Linked DNA regions of Homo sapiens: region 2 is linked to region 1. The links come from fine-mapping of genetic effects on gene expression. A gene starts in region 1. The other region holds a variant in brackets. All regions are shown on one strand. Distances are between the middles of the regions.

Region 1 (5,365 bases):
CCTCGTAGGAACAGTGGCAGGAGTGACAGGGACCCGTGACCACAGGATGGGGAAGCTCCCGGGGCCTCCCCAGGAAAGGACTGAGCAAGACCTTGGGCAAGGCTGCCCCTCTCTGTGCCTCAGTTTACCTAATCTTGAAAGTTAGTTTAGGCTAGAAGTGGTGGCTCACGCCTGTAATCCCAGCACTTTGGGGGACCGAGGCGGGCAGATCACTTGAGGTCAGGAGTTTGAGACCAGCCTGGCCAAAGTGGTGAAACCCTGTCTCTATTAAAAATACAAAAATTAGCCAGGTGTGGTGGCGGGCACCTGTAATCCCAGCTACTTGGGAGGCTGAGACAGGAGAATCGCTTGAACCTGGGAGGCGGAGGTTGCAGTGAGCTGAGATGGCGCCACTGCACTCCAGCCTGGGCGACAGAGTAAGACCCTGTCTCAAAAAGAAAGAAAGTTAGTTAGTTTAATTGGACCCATTATCATTGAGCCTCCAATCCCGGGACTTCTGTGAGTCACCCAAGACCTCCTACTTGCTCACCCAGACTAGAACAATGTCAGGGTCCCTGAGTTGATTCAGCCTCGGGCCTGGCCCTGCAGGAGTCCCCAGTCTAGAGAGACAGAGCTGGACACAGATATCACCGTCCTGCATGGTCAGGGCTGGGCCAGATGGAGGGACAAGGTCCAAAAGAACCTGGACTAAAGGAGGGCTCATGGGAGTTGGGGTTTTAAAGCATGAATAGGAGTTCACTGGGCAAGGAATTATTTGTTTCAACAAACATTCCCAACCCTGCACTGGTTAATGACAGGGCCCCTGAAAAACTTCAGTCCCCACCACACCCCCTTAGGAAACCTAGTTTGGTGGCAGGGGTAGGGTGGTGAGCATGCTACACTGACATCCCTAGGGGAAAAGCCCTAAATTTCCATATCATTTCTTAGCTTCTGTCCATGACCAGGACCCTAAGCATCTCCAAATCTCTTAGAGCTGTGCTGACTGGCATGGGAACCACTAGCCCCATGTGGTGACTTAATTTTTTTTTTTTTTGGAGACAGGGTCTCGCTCTGTTGCCCAGGCTGGAGTGCAGTGGTGCGATCATAGCTCACTGCAGCCTCCACCTCCCAGGCTCAAGGGAGCCTTGAATAGTAGCCTCCCGAGTAGCTGAGACTACAGGCTCACGCCTGAATAATTTTTGTATTAAGTTTTTTTTATTTTTTTATTTTTTCTGGAGACAGGTTCTTGCTCTGTCACCCAGGCTGGAGTGTGCAGTGGCATGATCACAGCTCATGGCAGCCTCGACTTCCCAGGCTCAAGTGATCCTCCCATCTCAGCCACCCGAGTAGCTGGGACTACATGTCTAACTAATTAAAAATAAATTTTTTTTTTTTTTTTTGTAGAGACTAGGTCTCACTAGTGTGGCCCAGGCCAGTCTCGAACTCCTGAGCTCAAGCCATCCTCCTGCCTGGGACCCCCAAAGTGCTGGGATTACAGCCATGAGCCACAACCCCTGGCCTTAATTTTTGTATTAATTTTTGTATTAATGTTAAACCAAGTAAAATTAAATACAATTGGCTGGGCGCAGTGGCTCACGCCTGTAATCCCAGCACTTTGGGAGGCCGAGGTGGGTGGATCACTTGAGGTCAGGAGTTCGAGACCTGCCTGGCCAACATGGTGAAACCCCATCTCTACCAAAAAATATAAAAATCAGCAGGGCGTGGTGGCACACACCTGTAGTCCCAGCTACTTGGGAGGATGAGGCAGGAGAATCACTTGAACCTGGGAGGCGGAGGTTGTAGTGAGCCAAGATTGCCCCACTGCACTCCAACCTGGTTGAAAGAGTGAGATTCTGTCTTAAAAAAATAATAATTAAATACATACATACATACATACATACATACATACAATTATATGCCCAGCTCCTCAGCTGTGCCAGCCTCTCTTCCAAGGCTCAGTAGCTACATGGGGCTGATGGCTGCTGTATTGGATGGCCAACATTGTTCTAGAAGATCCCAGGAACCAAGGAGCCCAAGTTCCCCAGAAACCAAGAATCTCACTACTGTTTTCACAGTTTCAATTAGATTGCCTCACCCCACCTCTGGCAGACAGATACACATGGAGCACCAGTATGTGTGCGACCCTGTACCCAACTATTCACACGCATCTGCTCATCCAATCTTCATGCCATGCCCTCAGAGGCAACCCCAACTTTATGAAGGAAACCGAGGCACAGAGAGATCAATCATTGGTCCCGGCTGACTGTGATTTTGCCCCTGGTCTGTCTGCCAATGACCTCCTGTTTGAAACCATCACGCGTGGCTCTCTGGGTTTCCAAGCTCCCCTTGCCGCCCCCCTAACCCAAACCACCACTCACAGCTGGAATGGGGGACGGGGGGCAGGGCAACGGGTGGCCCCATGCAGGCTTTGGCCAGCCCAGGAAGTGACACCTGCTACTTCTCCTGAAACCCAGGCTCCGGGCAGGGGGGCCTCCCCTCTGTTCCTGAGGGGGGCCAAGGCGAGATGATGGGTATCTACTGGCCAGGGCTCAAACTCACCGGACAGGGTAGCGAGTGGGATGGGGCCCCTGTCTGACGGGGCAGGCGCCAGGAGACAGCCACGAGGCCACTTCCGTCAGCACCAAGTTGGAGGCTTGTGTGCATGGGTTGGGGGGGGGACAGGAAGCTCACCCCGCCCCGCCTACCATCCAACCGCCACCTTTCCTCCCCCGCCCGATCAGCACCCATGGGACCTCCCTGGAACCACACAGGCCATGGGTGAGTAAACAAGAGGCGCTTGAACCTGGAGCCCCCCGGCCTGAACCTGGAGCTGTTCTTACCGAACAAATATTAATCATGGCAATTGGGAAATAACTGAGCACCAACCCTGGCCCAGGCATTCAACATCTTGCCATCCTGAGGTAGGCCGATACCCACTTCACAGACTGGGCAAACTGAGGCTCAGAGAGGGAAATGCGCTCAGAAAGGGGAAGACATGGCCAGGCGCGGTGGCTCACGCCTGTAATCCCAGCACTTTGAGAGGCCAAGGTGGGTGGATCACGAGGTCAAGAGGTTGACACTATCCTGGCCAACACGGTGAAACCCCGTCTCTACTAAAAATACAAAAATTAGCTGGGCGTGGTGGCCCATGCCTGTAGTCCCAGCTACTCAGGAGGCTGAGGCAGGAGAATCACTTGAACCCGGGAGGTGGAGGTTGCAGTGAGCCAGAGGTTGCAGTGAGCCGAGATTGCGCCACTGCACTCCAGCCTGGCGACAGAGCGAGACTCCATCTCAAAAAAAAAAAAAAAAGAAAAGAAAGGGGAAGACATTTTTGCATTCATGAGCGCTTTCCTTCACTACAAAAGAAATTTAAAATTATATTTTAGGTGGTGGCTGATGCCTGGAATCCCAGCACTTTGGGAGGCCGAGGCAGGTGGATTGCTTGAGCCCAGGAGTGCGAGAACAGCCTGGGCAACATGGTAAAACCCCGTCTCTACTAAAAATACAAAAGTTAGCTGGGTGGGGTGGCATATGCCTGTAATCCCAGCTACTCGGGAGGCTGAGGCAGGAGAATCGCTTGAACCCAGGAGATGGAGGTTGCAGTGAGCGGAGATCGAGCCACTGCACTCCAGCCTGGGTGACAGAGAGAGACTCTGTCTCAAAAACAAAACAAAACAAAACTGTATTTTACAACTACATTGACATAAAGACAAATATATTAATATTATACACAAAAATGTTTCCTTCAACCCAAGAGTTCATTTTTTTCCCTTTGGATTTTAAAAGAAGTGAAAACATCAACCTAGGGACCCCTAAAAGCACTGTGAGCCTGAGACACTGGGCATTTTGGGTCTGATGGAGAAGTCAGCCCTGCTAGAACCCAAGTCTCCCAGCCTGTACAGTACCAGCACAAAGCCCAGAGATGGCCGGAGACTTGCCCAAGGTTACACAGCACATTGCCAGCTGACTCAGAGGTCCCCATCCTGCCTTCCCGGCACCAAGTCTTGCAAACCTGGGGCTGAGACATGTGAGCAGCCCCAGAACAGATAAAACAAAGCAGGAACCACATCAGCAACAAAGGCAAGACCCGAGCTCCCATCCTGGGAATCGAGTGGTGCCTGGCTGGGTGTCCGGAGCCGCTGACGTCTTGCCTGATGACCTTGGGCCACTCCTGACCTTCCACGATCTGGCTTCCAGGATCCTGGGAAACAGGATCTCACATTTCCCTCTCTCTTGGACCCCAGTGTATGTACAGTAGGGCCAGTAGCAAGGGTTTTCTCATCCTTCCCACGGACCAGTCACTTGGTTCAAGCAGGTACCATGCTGTTTCAATGACCCACTATGTCATGTCTCCCCTCTTGGCCTCGCCACCTGGGCTGCGATCACAGACAATCTGGCTTGATTCTCGTCACCACACCTCAAGGCAGTATCTTATCTCAACCAGCACCACGATGGGGAAACTGAGACACGTGCCCCAGGTCACACAGTGACTCGGGCCACCAAGTGGGAATCTGAGCCAGGGATTCTCAGAAATTTTCTGTCCTCCCCATGGGTCCCCTCCCTCTTCCTCACTTCATTTGGCAAACATCTATTGAATGCCTACTGTGTACCCAACTTTCCCAGGTGCTGGAGTCTCCTCAGGCAATGCCTTTGATAGACTCCCCCTTCCCCTCCCTCCTCCTGGTCAGCTGTGACCCGATTTAAAGAGCACTAATACTGTCATTAATATTATAATAATCATGTCTGTATTTACAGAGCTTCCTCCTCCCACAGACTCCTCCCATCTTCCCAGAGGAATTCAGCCCATTTCACAGAAGAACAAACAAAGGCACCAAGGGAAAAACACACACACAGGTAGAGGCAAATTCAAACCTGGGGGTGTCAGACTCCCAGCCCCATGCCCACCACTGGGAGGGCGCTCCAAGGGACAGGGAATGAGCTGGCCTGGCAACTCCCACCCCCTCCTGCCCAGGACCTCGCCCGAGAACAGGTTCACCCCTGGCGTGGGTGATGGTATGTGGGTCAGGGTGTGCCCTAAGTGGCCCCAATGGTGAGACCAGGGTGGCGATGCCCCATCCCAGCCATTGCAGCTTGGTCCTATGTTTTACTCCCTGTCCCCATGCCCTCAGCCCCAATATCAGAGTGTCATCATCAACCCATTTTGCAGTGCAGTAAACTGAGGCTGAGAGGATAGCAAGGCACTGTGGGAGGGTCTCCAAACCCAATGCTGTCTTGACCCCAAACCACCCACATGTTAAGCAAAAGAGTGAATCACCATTGGACAAAATGTGGGCTGGGTGAGTTCAGAATCTGTAAAATGCAGGGTCCGAAGCTCCCAACCTCAATTTTCAAAAGAGGAAACCGAGGTTCAGAAAGGTGCTGTCAC
Region 2 (5,365 bases), 32 kb before region 1:
AGTAGAGACGGGGTTTCACCATATTAACCAGGATGGTCTCGATCTCCTGACCTCGTGATCTGCCCATCTCGGCCTCCCAAAGTGCTGGGATTGCAGGTGTGAGCCACCGCACCCGGCCTGACTACTTTTTAAAATATTTTTTTGTAAGGCTGGGTGCAGTGGTTCATGCCTATAATCGCAGTCCTTTGGGAGGCCGAGGCGGGTGGATCACCTGAGGTCAGCAGTTCGAGACAAGCCTGACCAACATGGTGAAACCTCATGTCTACTAAAAAAACACAAAAATCAGCTGGGTGTGGTAGCAGGCACCTGTAATCCCAGCTATCCGGGAGGCTGAGGCAGAGAAAATCGCTTGAACCCGGGAGGCGGAGATTGCAGTGAGCTGAGATCGTGCCACTGCACTCCAACCTGCACGACAGAGCGAGACTTCATCTCAAAGTAAATAAATTAAATAAATAAATAAATAAACAAAATATTTTTTGTAGAGATGAGATCTCACCATATTGCCCAGGCTGGTCTCAAACTCCTGGCCTTAAGTGATCCTCCCACCTCAGCCTCCCAAAGCACTGCAATTACAGGCATGAGCCACTGCACCTGGCACTCATAACATCACCCTTAGTGCTAAGCAGGGTGGGCTCACAGTTAACGGTCAGGCCGAGGGTGCACCCTTTAATCAATGCATCAGGGAGAAGGTCTGGGGTTATGGGGGAAACTGCTGAGTTTTCCTTGGCCTCCCGCAAGCCCTCACCAGGTGGCAGCCGGCTGCAAGCGGACGTTGGTCACAGGCTCCCCCACAGGCAGCAGGATCTGGACGTTCGTGAGTGGTGTGGGCACAGCCGTGGCACCGGGCCGGTAGCCGTACTCCACTGAGACCTGGGTGAGGGTGGCTCCACACTGCCAGTGGGCACTGAGCTGCAGAGGCACAGACTGGGGACCCGGGCGGGAGAACTAGGAAGAATGAGAATGAGAGAGAGGACACAGCTTGGGCCATCCTGTCTTGCCACACCATGCGCTATTCAACCACCTTGACCCTGCGATGCACGCACCGCCCCAAGGGGGTCCAGTCACAGGGAGATTTGATGGATGAGAGGCTGTATTACACCAGGTTTCCAGCAGGGGGCAGGAGAGCGCCTCATTCTAACAAAGTCTCCCAGGGAAGTTCAAGTGTAAGGTTCCGGGGCTGGGCTGCTTCTAGTTCACATAAACATACTATCTGCAACAGGGGATGCACGCTCTTCCACACTGCCTACTCCTCCACCGTTCATTCCCGACCCACACTGCCTACTCCCTCCAGCTCATCGGCTCTCACAGATTGGATCTCTTGAGGTCAGGAATTCGAGACCAGCCTGGCCAACACGCAGGCGCCTCCATGTCTGCTGCCGGCTCACCGTGTCCCCCACTCCACCACCTCCTCCCGGCCCCATGCGGGTGGCGCACCTGGTATCGCAGCAGCACCACGTTGTAGTAGGAGGCAGTGGGGTTCTGCTCTGCCTGGCGCTGCAGGGCTTCGGTCAGAGCTGCCATGTTGAGCCAGAAGTCTTTGGTCTCAGGGTCACTCTGGGAGGGGTCACTGCAGAGACCCGGACTGATCACCCCAATCCTCGGGACATGCCCTCCCAGGGCTCCCAGCATTCAATCTACCCCTTCCTAAAGATGCAATTTCCTGGCCCACCCTGGGCCCAGCAAAGCCCTACCTGGGTGGTTGTGGTGCGGGCAGTAAAGGAGGGATGGAAAACAAGGGTCAGAGAGGGCAAGTTACTTGCCCCACGCCACACAGCAAATCCCAGGAGGTGGCTGGGTGTGGTGGCTCATGCTTGTAATCCCAGCACTTTGGGAGGCTGAGACGGGTGGATCACCTGAGGTCAGGAGTTTAAGACCAGCTTGACCAACATGGTGCAACCCCATCTCTACTAAAAATACAAAAATCAGCCAGGCATGGTGGCACATGCCTGTAATCCCAGCTACTCAGGTGGCTGAGGCAAGAGAATCACTTGAATCCGGAAGGCGGAGCTTGCAGTGAGCCGAGATCACGCCACTGCACTCCAGCCTGGGCAACAAGAGCAAAACTCCATCTCAAAAAAATAATAATTAAAAAAAAAAAATCAAGCCGGGTGTGGTAGCTCACGCCTGTAATCCTAGCACTTTGGGAGGCCAAGGCGGGCGGATTGCCTGAGCTCAGGAGTTTGAGACCAGCCTGGGCAACATGATGAAACCCTGTCTCTACTAAAATACGAAAGAAATTAGCTGGGTGTAGTGGCACGTGCCTGTAATCCCAGCTACTTGGGAGGCTGAGGCAGGAGAATTGCTTGAACCCGGGAGGCGGAGTTGCAGTGAGCCGAGATGACGCCATTGCACTCCAGCCTGGGCGACAGAGCAAGACTCCGTCTCTACAAAAAAAAAAGAAAAGAAAAAATCCCAGGAAGCAGAGAGGGAACTCAGAGTCCGGAAGCCTGATCCCCAGCAGCCTCCGAGGCCCTCTCCCACTGCCCCTCCATAGTACCTGAACAGCAGATCGGCGTTGGGCTGGAAGTGCTCAATAGCGGTTGTGTGTACAAGCCGGAAGCTGAGGACAGGTGGTGGTGGGGTCCCGCTGAACACACGCACGATGCCAGCAGGGAAGGTCATGGTCAGCTCCCCAGTTACTCGAGCCAGGCAGCTAGGGAGGATGAGGGGACTGGGTGTTGGCTTAGGGCTCTGCCTGGTGCCTCATCCTTCCCCTTCTCTTGGTTTCACTGGTGCCTGTGGCTCCCCAGACTCCTCGGATCTAGGAGGATGGCCCTGATGATCCCCCGTATCCTTTCCCCCAACCTCCTCTTTCATTCCTGCCTGGACAGGAAGAATCCACCCTGGGCTGAAGGAGGCAGGAACATCTCCATCCCTAGTTCTCTTTTCTCCTAGGCCACCAGGAAGCTCAAATTAAAATGTTCAGTTTTTTAGCTATCCTTTGCTTGGGTTTTTGATCTGACACTCTCCTCTTCTTCATGGTTTGACTT[T/G]CAGATCTTTTCTGCTGAAGGCCACCCCAATATATATCCCTGCACTCCGCTTGTCCCTAACCCACGCCCTTACCCACTTACTGGGCCTAACTTCTAGTATTACTCCCTTCATCTTAATGCCCACGGCAGCCTTGGCGTCTACAGCAATGCATAGCCCTGCTTAAATGCTCTCCTATGGCTGGGCACAGTGGCTCATGTCTATCCTCCCAGCACCTTGGGAGGCTGAGGCAGCTGGATTACTTGAGGCCAGGAGTTCGAGACCAGCCTGGCCAACATGGTGAAACCCTGTCTCTACTAAAGACACAAAATCAGCAGGGTGTGGTGGCATGTGCCTGTAATCCCAGAATTACTCGGGAGGCTGAGGCAGGAGAATCTCTTGAACCCAGGAGGCAGAGGTGGCAGTGAACTGAGATCACGCCACTACACTCCAGCCTGGGCAACAGAGTGAGACCCTGTCTCAAAACAAACAAACAAACAAATAAACAAACAAAAAGCACAATAATTTAGTCGGGTGCAGTGGCACGCATCTGTAGTTCCAGCTACTCGGGAGGCTGAGACAGGAGAATTGCTTGAACCCGGGAGGCAGAGGTTGCAGTGAGCTGAGATTGCGAGATTGCACCACTGCACACTCCAGCCTGGGCAGCAAGAGCGAAACTCTGTCTCAAAAAAAAAAAAAAAAAAAAAAAAAAAAAGGCCCTCCTATGGCTCCACTGCCCTCAGGACAGGGGCCTGGTCACTTGGCTCAGTGTTCAAGGCCCTTTCACTATAAGACAGACCATGAAGCACATCTGAAAGCTGTCCCTGCTGGACTCCCCCAACACAGACTTCCCACGGGCCCTGTCTGCCCATCACTGGGTACCTGGGGCTGTGGCCACGGAAGTAGGCGTGGACATACTCTGTGAAGGCTGTGGCTATGGGCAGGGCATCCTGGGAGCCCAGGACCACAGGGCTCGGACCCCGGGAGACTCCTGGGGGTGGTGGAGAGGGAATGGGGAACAACGGATAGACAGTGTGAATATAGGCTCCAGGCTCGAGACTCCCTCCGCCCAACCACACCTCTGCCAACAGAGAAGCCACCCACCCAGACCAGAGAAGGTGACACTGAGGCCCAAAGCCAGGCCCAGGACCGCCCTCACATACCGTGTCCTGTCTGGGATAAGAAGCTGGGCCGTTCCAAGGCAGTGCTGGCGGCTGAAGAGCCCAGTGGGGAGGGGCTCAGGGAACGAGACTGGAAGGGAAAGAGACAATCTTGGCTGTGAGTGCCCCAGGACCAGTGCCCAAAAGCGGACCCCAGACGCGACCCCCAGTCCAGCTCCTGCCACGCCCCCTCACCTACCAGGTCCCCATTGCTACGTGTGAGAGGGCAGGACACCTTCCTAGAGCGAAGTCTCCTGGGTGGGGCTGCCAGGCCCTCCCTGGCTGTGGGGTCAGCAGGTGCAGGCATCAGGTCTAGGAGCGAGTACAAAGAGGCACTGCTGAGATGCTGCCCGGGGCCTCTGGGGCCTCCCCAGGGGCACAAACTCAGCCAAAATCTTAGGAGGTGGGCTTTTCTGCAGAGACCCCCAATGGGTCTGAAGTCCTGGTGTTGCAGAAAAGGTGCCAGACAGGACTGCAGATACTGTCCACACCCCCAACCCTCCCAGACACCAGAATGGTGGCCCAATAAGGGGTGAGCTCCCCATCACTGGGGGTATGCAAGCAAGCACTGAAGGCTTAAGACGCAGGCATGCTGTAAGGGGGGTTCAGCAGAGGATTTTTAGCCAACATTCAGCCATTTTGTGACCTCTACCCTTTCCGAGAACCTGACTGCAGCCACCTACTGTGGTCTGTGTCTGAGTCTCATGCCTTTAACACCCAAGCTCCCCTCCCTCTCCTGCTTCCTCAGGGTCCTGGTTCTGTTCCATCTATGAACGTGCTCCCTTGCTTGCCAACCTCCCCTCCCACCTACCTCCCCTCTCACCTGTACCCCAAGCTGTGCTCCCCGCTCTACCCGACTTTCTCAGCCTCAGCACTGTGGATATTTGGGGGCTGGACCATTCTCGGGGGCGGGGGCTGCCCTGTGCACTGTAGGGTGCTGAGCAGCAACCCAGGCCTCCACCCACTGAATGCCAGGAGCACCACTCCTGCCTGGTGGTGACAACCAAAAATGTCTCCAGACACTGACAATGTCCCCTGGGGGGGCAGAATTTGCAGGGTTGGATAAGAGCCTCTACTCAGGCCGGGTGCGGTGGCTCACGCCTGTAATCTCAACACTTTGGGAGGCCGAGGCAGGCAGATCACCTGAGGTCAGGAGTTCGAGACCAGCCTGTCCAACATGGTGAAACCCCATCTCTACTAAAAATACAAAAATTAGCCACGTGTGGCGGTACGCACCT

Evidence for each region.
Region 2: its variant is fine-mapped to the expression of FCHO1 in whole blood (INTERVAL, PIP 0.92).

The regions. Positions count from the first base shown.
Region 1 is chr19:17,748,751-17,754,115 of GRCh38, reverse strand. FCHO1 (FCH and mu domain containing endocytic adaptor 1) reads right to left here and starts at 2,639. Exons shown (of 29, transcript NM_015122.3): 1 at 2,539-2,639. FCHO1-AS1 (FCHO1 antisense RNA 1) reads left to right here and starts at 2,719. Exons shown (of 5, transcript XR_007067152.1): 1 at 2,719-2,900; 2 at 3,366-3,458; 3 at 4,753-4,833. RefSeq lists an enhancer at 1-481.
Region 2 is chr19:17,780,305-17,785,669 of GRCh38, reverse strand. It overlaps FCHO1 (FCH and mu domain containing endocytic adaptor 1), which reads right to left. Exons shown (of 29, transcript NM_015122.3): 21 at 4,327-4,439; 22 at 4,131-4,218; 23 at 3,850-3,958; 24 at 2,498-2,653; 25 at 1,435-1,567; 26 at 746-945. Among named protein-coding and RNA genes, the nearest start is that of B3GNT3, 12 kb to the left of the region's middle. The variant T/G (reference allele first, on the strand shown) is at 2,991.